Linked DNA regions of Homo sapiens: region 2 is linked to region 1. Evidence: fine-mapped expression QTL. A gene starts in region 1. The other region holds a variant in brackets. All regions are shown on one strand. Distances are from middle to middle. Region 1 holds the start of LRRC70 (leucine rich repeat containing 70). Region 2 has its middle 110 kb from the start of LRRC70.

What was found. PIP is the estimated chance that this variant, and not a neighbour inherited with it, causes the effect. A credible set is the group of variants that fine-mapping cannot tell apart.
Region 2: its variant is the best candidate, but not a certain one, in a credible set for the expression of LRRC70 in whole blood (TOPMed, PIP 0.77).

The regions. Positions count from the first base shown.
Region 1 is chr5:62,576,092-62,581,479 of GRCh38, forward strand. LRRC70 (leucine rich repeat containing 70) reads left to right here and starts at 2,728. Exons shown (of 2, transcript NM_181506.5): 1 at 2,728-2,844; 2 at 3,310-5,355. The coding sequence starts at 3,348. The coding sequence ends at 5,216. The region is part of intron 27 of IPO11 (importin 11); the gene reads left to right. IPO11-LRRC70 (IPO11-LRRC70 readthrough) reads left to right here and starts at 2,644. Exons shown (of 4, transcript NR_073584.1): 1 at 2,644-2,844. It also overlaps the pseudogene RPL35AP14.
Region 2 is chr5:62,687,330-62,692,717 of GRCh38, forward strand. No RefSeq gene overlaps it. Among named protein-coding and RNA genes, the nearest start is that of LRRC70, 110 kb to the left of the region's middle. The variant C/T (reference allele first, on the strand shown) is at 2,665.

The DNA of each region.
Region 1 (5,388 bases):
GCCAGGAGTCACTTGTTGTTCTTTGCTTTGTGTGCGTAAGCACATTTATTGCCCAAATAGAATTCAGTTTCATCTTGGGCATAAACACCTTCAGTTTTAAGAAGATTTGTGTGCTCCCTTTGGTTCCAGAGACCCTGCTTATAGCGCAAAAATGGCCTTGGATGACAGCCTTCCAGAAATACTTGCCTTTTAGAAGTCATGTTCCAAGCAGGCCTCGACAGGCTTCATGATGGCAGGAAGAGCTGGATTATTTTTAATTGCAAATCCCATTTCACATTTTCATTCTCTTGATTTTAGTTCCATCAGTGACTTTTAAGGTCCATAAAATCAGTAACTGCTGTTATTATAAGCCATTCTTTATATGTAAACCAATCTTGATTGGTTTATATATAGATGGTATATATCTAAATACATATAGGCTGGACGCAGTGGCTCACACCTGTAATCCCAGCACTTTGGGAGGCCAAGGTGGGAGGATTACTTGAACCTACTAGTTCAAGACCAGCCTGAGCAGAATGGCAAGACTCCGTCTTTACAAAAATAAGAAAAAGCATGGTGGCATGCACCTGCAGTCCTAGCTACTCAAGAGGCTGAGGGAAGAGGATCACTTGAGACTGGGAGGTCGATGCTGTGGTGAGCTGTACTCACATTGTTGCACTCCAACCCAGCCGACAGAGCAAGACTGTGTCTCAAAAGAATACATGCATCCATACAGATGATGTATATTTAAAAGAGCTAATGGAACAATTGCTCTGTTATTTATACATTCTTGTTTTTGTATGGGGAGAATCTGAATGGAAAAGAGAATAGTTGTGTATTAATACCAGAAGCATGAGATGATTTGAAGACAAAGGCAGTGTAAAAGAAGGTTCAGCAACAAGAATGAGAGGAAAACAGCTCAATGAGTCAATTTCCTGGAAAGAAATAGAAGACTAATTTAAGAGGTTGAGCGTAGTGTTCAGTAATAGTTGTAATGAACATTAGTAATCAGAAAAGGATAATGAGGAATCATTGTTGATCAGTTGTCTCTAAGAACAGCAACTCCTAAATGAACAGAAAGACTAAACTTTGTTTTGCTGGAGATAGGAATTTTTTTTTAAACCATTCAACCTGAGAGTTACAGTGTACTATTTATATTTGCTTGTTTTGTTGAAGTCAGTTTAGTTTCCTTCAGTTTTTAGAATGTGAGAAGTGAGATTTTATTTTGTCATTTTTCCTTAATACAGTTTCCTAAAAATTTTACCTTTGCATCCTAATAAGTGTTCTTTACTGCTTTGGATATTTTTGGCATAAAGAACAAAATTAATTCATACTCTGGTTATATTACTTTGTGGGTTTTTTCTCTTTAATTTTATTTTTATTTCAAAGGACCCTTTCTCTGAATTTTTCCCAAGAAATTGAAAAATCCATGGGACAAGCTTCATATCACCTTGTATATTATTGGAAGTACTAAACAAAATGGACCTGAGAAACATAGCCCCTACCTCAAATTCATATCATTTCTGTCACTTGTTTTGTTTTCCATTTTTAATGCATAAAATAGCAATAACAGTAACCAGCCATAATGGATAGGTGTAAGAATCATAAGTCATTTTGATAACGATCTGCTATCCAGTATGCATTGCTGAATTTTTAGTCATAGAAAGATAATGCTAGGTATTATTTCAGCTTTCTAATATGGACATAATTCATATTATTTCTAAAGTAATTGTTGATGTGAAATGAAACTGCTTTAATATCAAAGGAGAGTTGTATACAATTATATAACTTGATATTTTAGGAATATTATCAGGCTATTAGTAATATTAATAAAAGTCAGAATTAGAAAGCTTAAGCAACTAGCTTAAAGTTAATGAAAGAAAGTTAATGACTGAACAATATATAATATAAACAATTTATATCCGATTCTTTAAATTCTTGAAAAATGACGTTAAAAAATTCTCCATTTTTGTTCTAAAAGATTCAAACTGATACAGATATATATAGGGCGAAACATCGCCTCTTTTACTCTCCCCAATTTTTCTTGCAAAGATAACCTATGTCAGTAAGTTGGTATGCAGCTTCTTAACATCTTATAACCCAACACAACCAATTAGTGCGTTACTACTAATTAGTAGCTTACTACCAATTAGTACCTCACGTATTAAGTAGTACTCAGTATTTTTTGCAACCAAAAATATTTTGAAAATTTTAAAAAGAGCACTGGAGGATAATATAACAACATTTATGTTCATTCTAAATTTTTTCCCCTATTTTTATTAAAGGAATAAAGCATAAAGTTTAAGTCTTCAATGCGTATTTAACACAACATAAATATTTTATTCATTAAAAAGTTTACAAAAAATTGTATTACTCGATATACATCTTATTTGAACTAGCCTTTTCCATTCAGTAGCTATGTTGTTTGATAGCTAGAGTCTGTTGATTGATATTTGGGTTCTGAATAACTAATGTTTTCAAGTATCCTTTAAAAACTATTATTTTTATATTATAGGAGATATTTCAATGTGTATATTAGGAAAACTCTAACTGCATTCTGAAAAAATAAGTTCCTGAGATTTCCGTTCAGCAATACTTTTGAAACACAGATAAAATTACTTCCTGTCTCTTAGCTTCCTGTATCCATGGCAACCTCTGTTTTACACATTGACTGTAAAGGAACCAATGTGAAGAGTGGTGTTTCCTGAGCAAACGGTGACTTAAAAAAAAAAAAAAAAAAGTGGTGGGGTGGAGGTCAGCAGTGCCACAGAACAAACTGGAGTTAAGAAATGTCGTTCTTCAGATTTAAAAAGAAAACCTTTACTGAATCAGCTGAGTGTTAATAATACGAATTTCCTTTTCTTGGTAAGATTATTTACTTAAATATGAACTTCTAGCTGACATGAAAAATAGTTCTGTGAAAAACTGTAATTTAGAATTTAATTGTTCTGTAGTGAATTTGTATTTTCATAAATTATAATGTTATTTGATATTAGACTTTATGTTGTTAAAGGGACATATTAAATTCAAAGATTCTCATTCCTACATCATTTGTCACCTGTGTTGTAATCAATTGTAATTTTTAAGTTAACTTAGCAAATGTTTCATTAATCTGAACTATTTTGTCAAATAGTGGGTTAATGGCCTGATCATGTTAATAATTCTAGAACGTATTCCATACTCATTATTTTTTGCTATTACCATGGTATGATTTATGATAGTATTATTGGCTGATCCTAATTAAAATAGAATACAGAAGTTATAGTATTATAAAAAAAATTCATTTGATGAAGTTTTCGTGATTTAAAGCTTTACCTTCTCTTTTTATAGCCAATTCTGATCTGAACAGAAAATCCAAGAACAGGGATATGTGTGGATTACAGTTTTCTCTGCCTTGCCTACGACTGTTTCTGGTTGTTACCTGTTATCTTTTATTATTACTCCACAAAGAAATACTTGGATGTTCGTCTGTTTGTCAGCTCTGCACTGGGAGACAAATTAACTGCCGTAACTTAGGCCTTTCGAGTATTCCTAAGAATTTTCCTGAAAGTACAGTTTTTCTGTATCTGACTGGGAATAATATATCTTATATAAATGAAAGTGAATTAACAGGACTTCATTCTCTTGTAGCATTGTATTTGGATAATTCTAACATTCTGTATGTATATCCAAAAGCCTTTGTTCAATTGAGGCATCTATATTTTCTATTTCTAAATAATAATTTCATCAAACGCTTAGATCCTGGAATATTTAAGGGACTTTTAAATCTTCGTAATTTATATTTACAGTATAATCAGGTATCTTTTGTTCCGAGAGGAGTATTTAATGATCTAGTTTCAGTTCAGTACTTAAATCTACAAAGGAATCGCCTCACTGTCCTTGGGAGTGGTACCTTTGTTGGTATGGTTGCTCTTCGGATACTTGATTTATCAAACAATAACATTTTGAGGATATCAGAATCAGGCTTTCAACATCTTGAAAACCTTGCTTGTTTGTATTTAGGAAGTAATAATTTAACAAAAGTACCATCAAATGCCTTTGAAGTACTTAAAAGTCTTAGAAGACTTTCTTTGTCTCATAATCCTATTGAAGCAATACAGCCCTTTGCATTTAAAGGACTTGCCAATCTGGAATACCTCCTCCTGAAAAATTCAAGAATTAGGAATGTTACTAGGGATGGGTTTAGTGGAATTAATAATCTTAAACATTTGATCTTAAGTCATAATGATTTAGAGAATTTAAATTCTGACACATTCAGTTTGTTAAAGAATTTAATTTACCTTAAGTTAGATAGAAACAGAATAATTAGCATTGATAATGATACATTTGAAAATATGGGAGCATCTTTGAAGATCCTTAATCTGTCATTTAATAATCTTACAGCCTTGCATCCAAGGGTCCTTAAGCCGTTGTCTTCATTGATTCATCTTCAGGCAAATTCTAATCCTTGGGAATGTAACTGCAAACTTTTGGGCCTTCGAGACTGGCTAGCATCTTCAGCCATTACTCTAAACATCTATTGTCAGAATCCCCCATCCATGCGTGGCAGAGCATTACGTTATATTAACATTACAAATTGTGTTACATCTTCAATAAATGTATCCAGAGCTTGGGCTGTTGTAAAATCTCCTCATATTCATCACAAGACTACTGCGCTAATGATGGCCTGGCATAAAGTAACCACAAATGGCAGTCCTCTGGAAAATACTGAGACTGAGAACATTACTTTCTGGGAACGAATTCCTACTTCACCTGCTGGTAGATTTTTTCAAGAGAATGCCTTTGGTAATCCATTAGAGACTACAGCAGTGTTACCTGTGCAAATACAACTTACTACTTCTGTTACCTTGAACTTGGAAAAAAACAGTGCTCTACCGAATGATGCTGCTTCAATGTCAGGGAAAACATCTCTAATTTGTACACAAGAAGTTGAGAAGTTGAATGAGGCTTTTGACATTTTGCTAGCTTTTTTCATCTTAGCTTGTGTTTTAATCATTTTTTTGATCTACAAAGTTGTTCAGTTTAAACAAAAACTAAAGGCATCAGAAAACTCAAGGGAAAATAGACTTGAATACTACAGCTTTTATCAGTCAGCAAGGTATAATGTAACTGCCTCAATTTGTAACACTTCCCCAAATTCTCTAGAAAGTCCTGGCTTGGAGCAGATTCGACTTCATAAACAAATTGTTCCTGAAAATGAGGCACAGGTCATTCTTTTTGAACATTCTGCTTTATAACTCAACTAAATATTGTCTATAAGAAACTTCAGTGCCATGGACATGATTTAAACTGAAACCTCCTTATATAATTATATACTTTAGTTGGAAATATAATGAATTATATGAGGTTAGCATTATTAAAATATGTTTTTAATAATTTGTGAACAGTGTATTCATTTAGCAAATATTT
Region 2 (5,388 bases), 110 kb after region 1:
CCATGCCCAGCCCCATCCATCAATTTATTACAAGGAATTGGCCTATGAAATTGGGACTCACTAAACAAATCTGAAATTCATAGGACAGATCCTCAACATTGAAAGATCATAGGCAGGCTGGAACTCACAGGCACAGATTGAGACTACTATACACAGGAAGCATTTCTTCTCTTCTCAGGGAAGTCTTAGCTGTGCTTTGGAGGTATTTTATCTGATTGATTAGGCCCATCCAGATTATTTAAGAGAATTTCCCTTATTCAAAGTCAGTTTATCTGATAATTCAATTATATCTGCAGAATATCTAGCGGTACCTACATTAGTGTTTGGATAACTGGACACTATAGTCCAACTAAGTTGACATTAGAAAAAACCATCACAATGGGCCTGGATTAAAGAAAGATAGGGTAGAAAAGAGACTTGAGCATGTGCTCAAAGTTCTGAATGTATTCCTTGGTGCTTCCCTAGGGACTGCTGAAGAGTAGCTCATTCAGTAAACTAATAATTTTCTAATGTAATAATAACTGTCAAATACAATAATAACATACCCCAATTGTGACCCATGTGAAAAAGACTAAGGGATGTTGGTGAGACTCTGAAACGCTAAACTTAAAGGGTAGGCGCCAGGAGTGGGTGGATGTGAACAAGCCTTGGGGGACTGTGAATTGGTGACCTGCCTTTGATTTCACAGGGACTTATTCTCAAGTCTTGGACATACCACTACACTTTCCTTTCCTCTCAGGTTCCTCACCTGTAGGTAATTACTTCCAATAATAATTTAGCTTAAGTCTTATATGTTGTAAAACGCTGCATCTTCATGCACATATGTATACACATATGCAGAGACACATACATAATACTCTACATACATATGTATATGCATCTTCTCAACAAGCCTTTCTGCAGAGGCATTCAGACAAAGGCAACATTTGAAGAACAGAAAACTGAAGTCAGTAATCTTAACTGACACAACTTCACATTGCACTTTTTAAGTTTCATTTAAAACTTTGGGTCAGAATGTATACACTAAGGTATTATTTGGACAAGTAACACTTCCTGGGTTCCTGGGAAGCTTGCTTTTTTTTTTTCCTTTTAGAAAATAAAAGGGTCTTGTTCTGTCACCCAGGCTGAGGGCTGGAGTGCAGTGGTGCAATCATAGCTCACTATAACCTCAAACTCCTGGGCTCAAATGATCCTCCTGCCTCAGCCTCCTGAGTAGCTGGGACTACACATGCATGCCACCATGACCAGCTAATTTTTTAATTTTTAATTTTTGTAGAGACATCTTGCTATGTTGCCCAGGCTGGTCTCAAACTCCTGGACTCAAGTGATCCTCCCACCTTGGCTTCCCAAAGTGCTGGGATTTCAGGTGTGAGCCACCATGCCTGGACCCCGGGAAGCTTTTTGCCTCTTCTCCTGTCCCCTCCAAATATGCCATCTGCCTCCCAATGCCTAACATTTTATTAACAACAGAAAAGCCTTCCTTTCATTCAATATAAGAAATAAGTTTAAAATATAAAATATACTTGGGAGAGTTAAGAAGGTAAGTGACGTGTTCACACCAAGACATTTTATTTCAAGCCAATGACAGATTATTCCACTTCTTTTTTAGGTTTTGATGAAATATAGGAATGCCTGCTTAAAGGGCTCAGTAGACAGGAGGGACCACCACTATTTGAAGAGATGAGAGTTGAAAGATAGTAGAAGACTGAAGAGGGGTATTGATGCTTGGTAGTTTGGTTGAGAGCTGGCCCAACCAACCTACAATACAGAAGTTTCAAGAAGTTCTGTTGACTTGTGCTTTTTAAAAATCCTTCTTAAGAAAACAATCATAGTTATATGTTTGGCTAGTCAAGTCCATGCCATTATAATGAGTTTGCATCAGATTTATTTGAGTGTGTTAAAAGGGAAACAGGCTGGGCATGGTAATCCTAACACTTTGGGAAACTGTAATTCCAGCACCTGTAATCCCAGCACTTTGGGAGGTTGAGACAGGAGGATTGCACAAGCCCAGGAGTTTGAGACCAGCCTGAGCAACATAGTGAGACCCCATCTTTACAAAAAATAAAAATAATTAGCTGGGTGTGGTAGTGTGTTCTTGTATTCCCCACTATTTGGGAGGTTGAGGCAGGAGGATCACTTGAGTCTGGGAGGTTGAGGCTGCAGTGAGCCGTGATTGCACCACTGCACTCCAGTCTGGGTGACAGAGCAAGACCCTGCCTCAAAAAAAAAAAAAAAAAGAAAAAAATTTTTTTACAAGAGGAAAATTGATCATGATCATATTTCTTCCTTTTCCAGCTATAACTCCCGGAAATAGGTATAAACAAATGCTGGTGTGTGGGACTTTTTGGCAAAATCATCCCAGGATTTCCTCAGGAGACAGGAAAAGACTTGAAGTCCTAAAAATGTATCTTTAGGGCAAAATAAACCCACGCCAGTTGGGTGTGGCCATCAACACTCCCAGAGGCGGAGTCTGCATTTTAGCAATGGTAGCGGGCCTGCTCCATGAGTATCTGATGAGATAGCTCCTTGGAAAGTGGGTTGTGAACCATAAAACACCACATCTGTTGCGTTATTAGGTGAAAGCCTATTGGAAAATCATGGGGAAATATTTTTTCACAATTGCAGCTTCTGGCTTGGTGAACACACGGAAGTGCTGCCAGGGGG[C/T]CCCGGGAGGGCATGGGGACTCCGTGCCCCAACCCCACTTCCGTGCCCTGCACATCTCTTCCACTCAACTATTCCTAAGTTGTATCCTTTATCATAACCCAGTAAACATAACTGAAAAAAATCAAAAGTGAAACTACTTAAAGCAAGATTTAAAAACATCTAAATGCTGAAGTGATTAGAAAGGGTTTCAGTTCTTGATAAAAAACAAAGTTCAGGAGTGTTCCTCAAAATGGAAAAGAACTGTAAAAGCCACTAACTCTTCTCTGAAGTTTAAAGTAGACCAGATGACTCAGGGCTTTTATTAGAAAAGTTTTTGCACAATAGCTGTTTCACCTTTTGGTGAAACAGCTGAAACTCAGGCAGAAATGCTAAGGAAAAGCTAAAGTCCTACTTCAATTTATTTAAACTGCCAGTTAGCAGGAGCCTAATGTATGCAAGTCAAACCCACTGCCGTCTTCCTGGCCCCGGGTCCTGACTCCTAAAGTGGCCACAGGAGACCCTGGCCTTAGAAAGAAATCTCTCCTGACCTCTCTAAGGATTATGCCGGGTTTGCCTGCCCCACTCTTCCCCCAGCAGAGGGTGAGAGAGCCTCTGACCATTCTTAAAGGCCGCCCTCCTTCACAAAGCTCCGGGACTTTCGAGTAGACAGGTCATGGTGGGGAGTGCTGGGGAGCTCCTGCTGTTTAATTTGGTTTGACTAACAGAAAGTGTATGCAGAGTGGCCCTCTTACCTCCAAGTGGCTCTGGTGTGCTCAGTCCCCAAGTTTCCTATTTATGTTAGTAAAATTTTTGGTACTCTGAGTCCCTTTGGTTTGTGGTCATTGGAAGAGACAGAGGTTGACCCCTTTGTTCACCCTCATCCTGGACAGCATCTGGATGGGTCTTGCCCTCCTGCCTTACTGAGTCCAGTGCTAGGGGAGAGGACACAGCAGGCCCCTGCCCCTGAAGGAGACTGCATTGGAATTTTTGCCAGGTGGCCCTGACACATAGGAATGCCCAACTACTGTGACTACCCTCTGAGATAAAAAGCTGTCCTACTGATTTTAGAAGGCCAAAATTAGAGGTCATTTTGGAGGTCATGCCAGTGGACATATAACAGTTTGAAATGCTTGTTCCCCGGTGCCGTAAAGAAATAGTACTTGAACTTAAATTTATTCAGCAAGGCCATTTTTATTTTCTGCAGAAAGGGTACACTTGGCAGCAGTTTTGCCACGAGAGTACCCCGAACAAAGGAGACAGGGTCATTTATAACCTGACGCGTCCACCCTTCTGCTGTGTCCGGTTTCCATTGGCTGGAACAGGACCTCACATTCTGTATTTGTCCCGATTGGCTAGCAACTTAGAACTTATTAAAAGAGGCAAAGCTAGAGGAGAAAAAAGGAAGGAGGAAGTAACTTGTGGAATGCTGAGAAAGGTAAAAACACCTTTAAATAAGGAAGAGAAACAGGCTATGAACTAATGCCTGCTTGGACCAGTATAAGCATGCCAGGGCAAATATTTAGGCTAAATTGTGGGAGCTAAGAACATAAAGTATATTGGTTTTCTTATTACGACTAGCAGATATTTAAGAATGTTAGCACAGGTTTTTGAATAAATTTTGCTTCTAAGAGAAGTTATTATTTATTCCTAATTAAATGGAGAGGAAAGTCTTTGAAGAGGAACCTCTATTTTTACATAGAACCTTGCCTGGTAGCGCAAACTAGAATCAAGGAGTCACAGAGAGTTAGAACTGGAAGAACCTGAGTGATCTGTCTCCCAGCCCAATTTCTTCCCGTACCAGTGTGGAGATGGAGAGTGAAAGTGACCCATCCTGGGCTGCCCAGCCAGCGGAGTTAACACAAGAACCTGGGGTTTCATCCTGCCAGTTGAGGTTGCATTGTATATGTTTGTTTTCCATTCTTTTTTTTTTTTTTTTTTTTTTTTTTTTTGAGACAGGGTCTAGCTCTGTCAGGCTGGACGGAATATAGTGGCATGATCTTGGCTTGCTGCAACCTCTGCCTCTTGGGCTTAAGTGTCCTCCCATCTCAGCCTTCTGAGTAGCTGGGACTACAGGTGCACACCACCATGTATTTTTTTGTATTTTTTGTAGAGATGGGGTTTCGCCGTGTTGCCCATGCTGGCCTCAAATGCCTCAGCCTCCCAAAGTGTTGGGATTACAGGTGTGAGCCACTGCACCTGGCCTGCTTTCCATTCTTACCTCTGTGTTAATGACACAGCATTTTCAAGACAGTTTTGTTCCTATTCTTTACCCTCTGCAAAGGGTGTTCTTGATACACAGACACACACACACACACACTTATATGTTTTAGGCAATTGCAGATATTTGCTTCTAGTCCAGGGTGCCAGTTACAGAGGTCCCCATATCTGCTGCTTTGAGGCTAATGCTGAGCTGTGGGATTATTCTTTTCATGAGCCCCCTGGCTCTGCTGCTTGGTTGCAGGGCTGGCTCAGATGACTAAGAACACAGGACCACAGGAGCAATGGTCCAGTGAGGTATGCAGTGGAGCTCTGGCTCCACCAGCCTCACAGCATGAAATTAAGACGTCATCTCTGGTCTTTGCTGAAGAAGATCATATCTACTAGTACTGTGCTCTCTTTGCATGCCAGAGATTTGACCAGGTGATGTAAATAGAGGATGTCAAGCTCCTCCATTGTAGATTAAGCCTATAAAGTATTCTTACTGGTGAATTTGCCTTAGCCTCCTGTGATAGCAGTTTATTTATA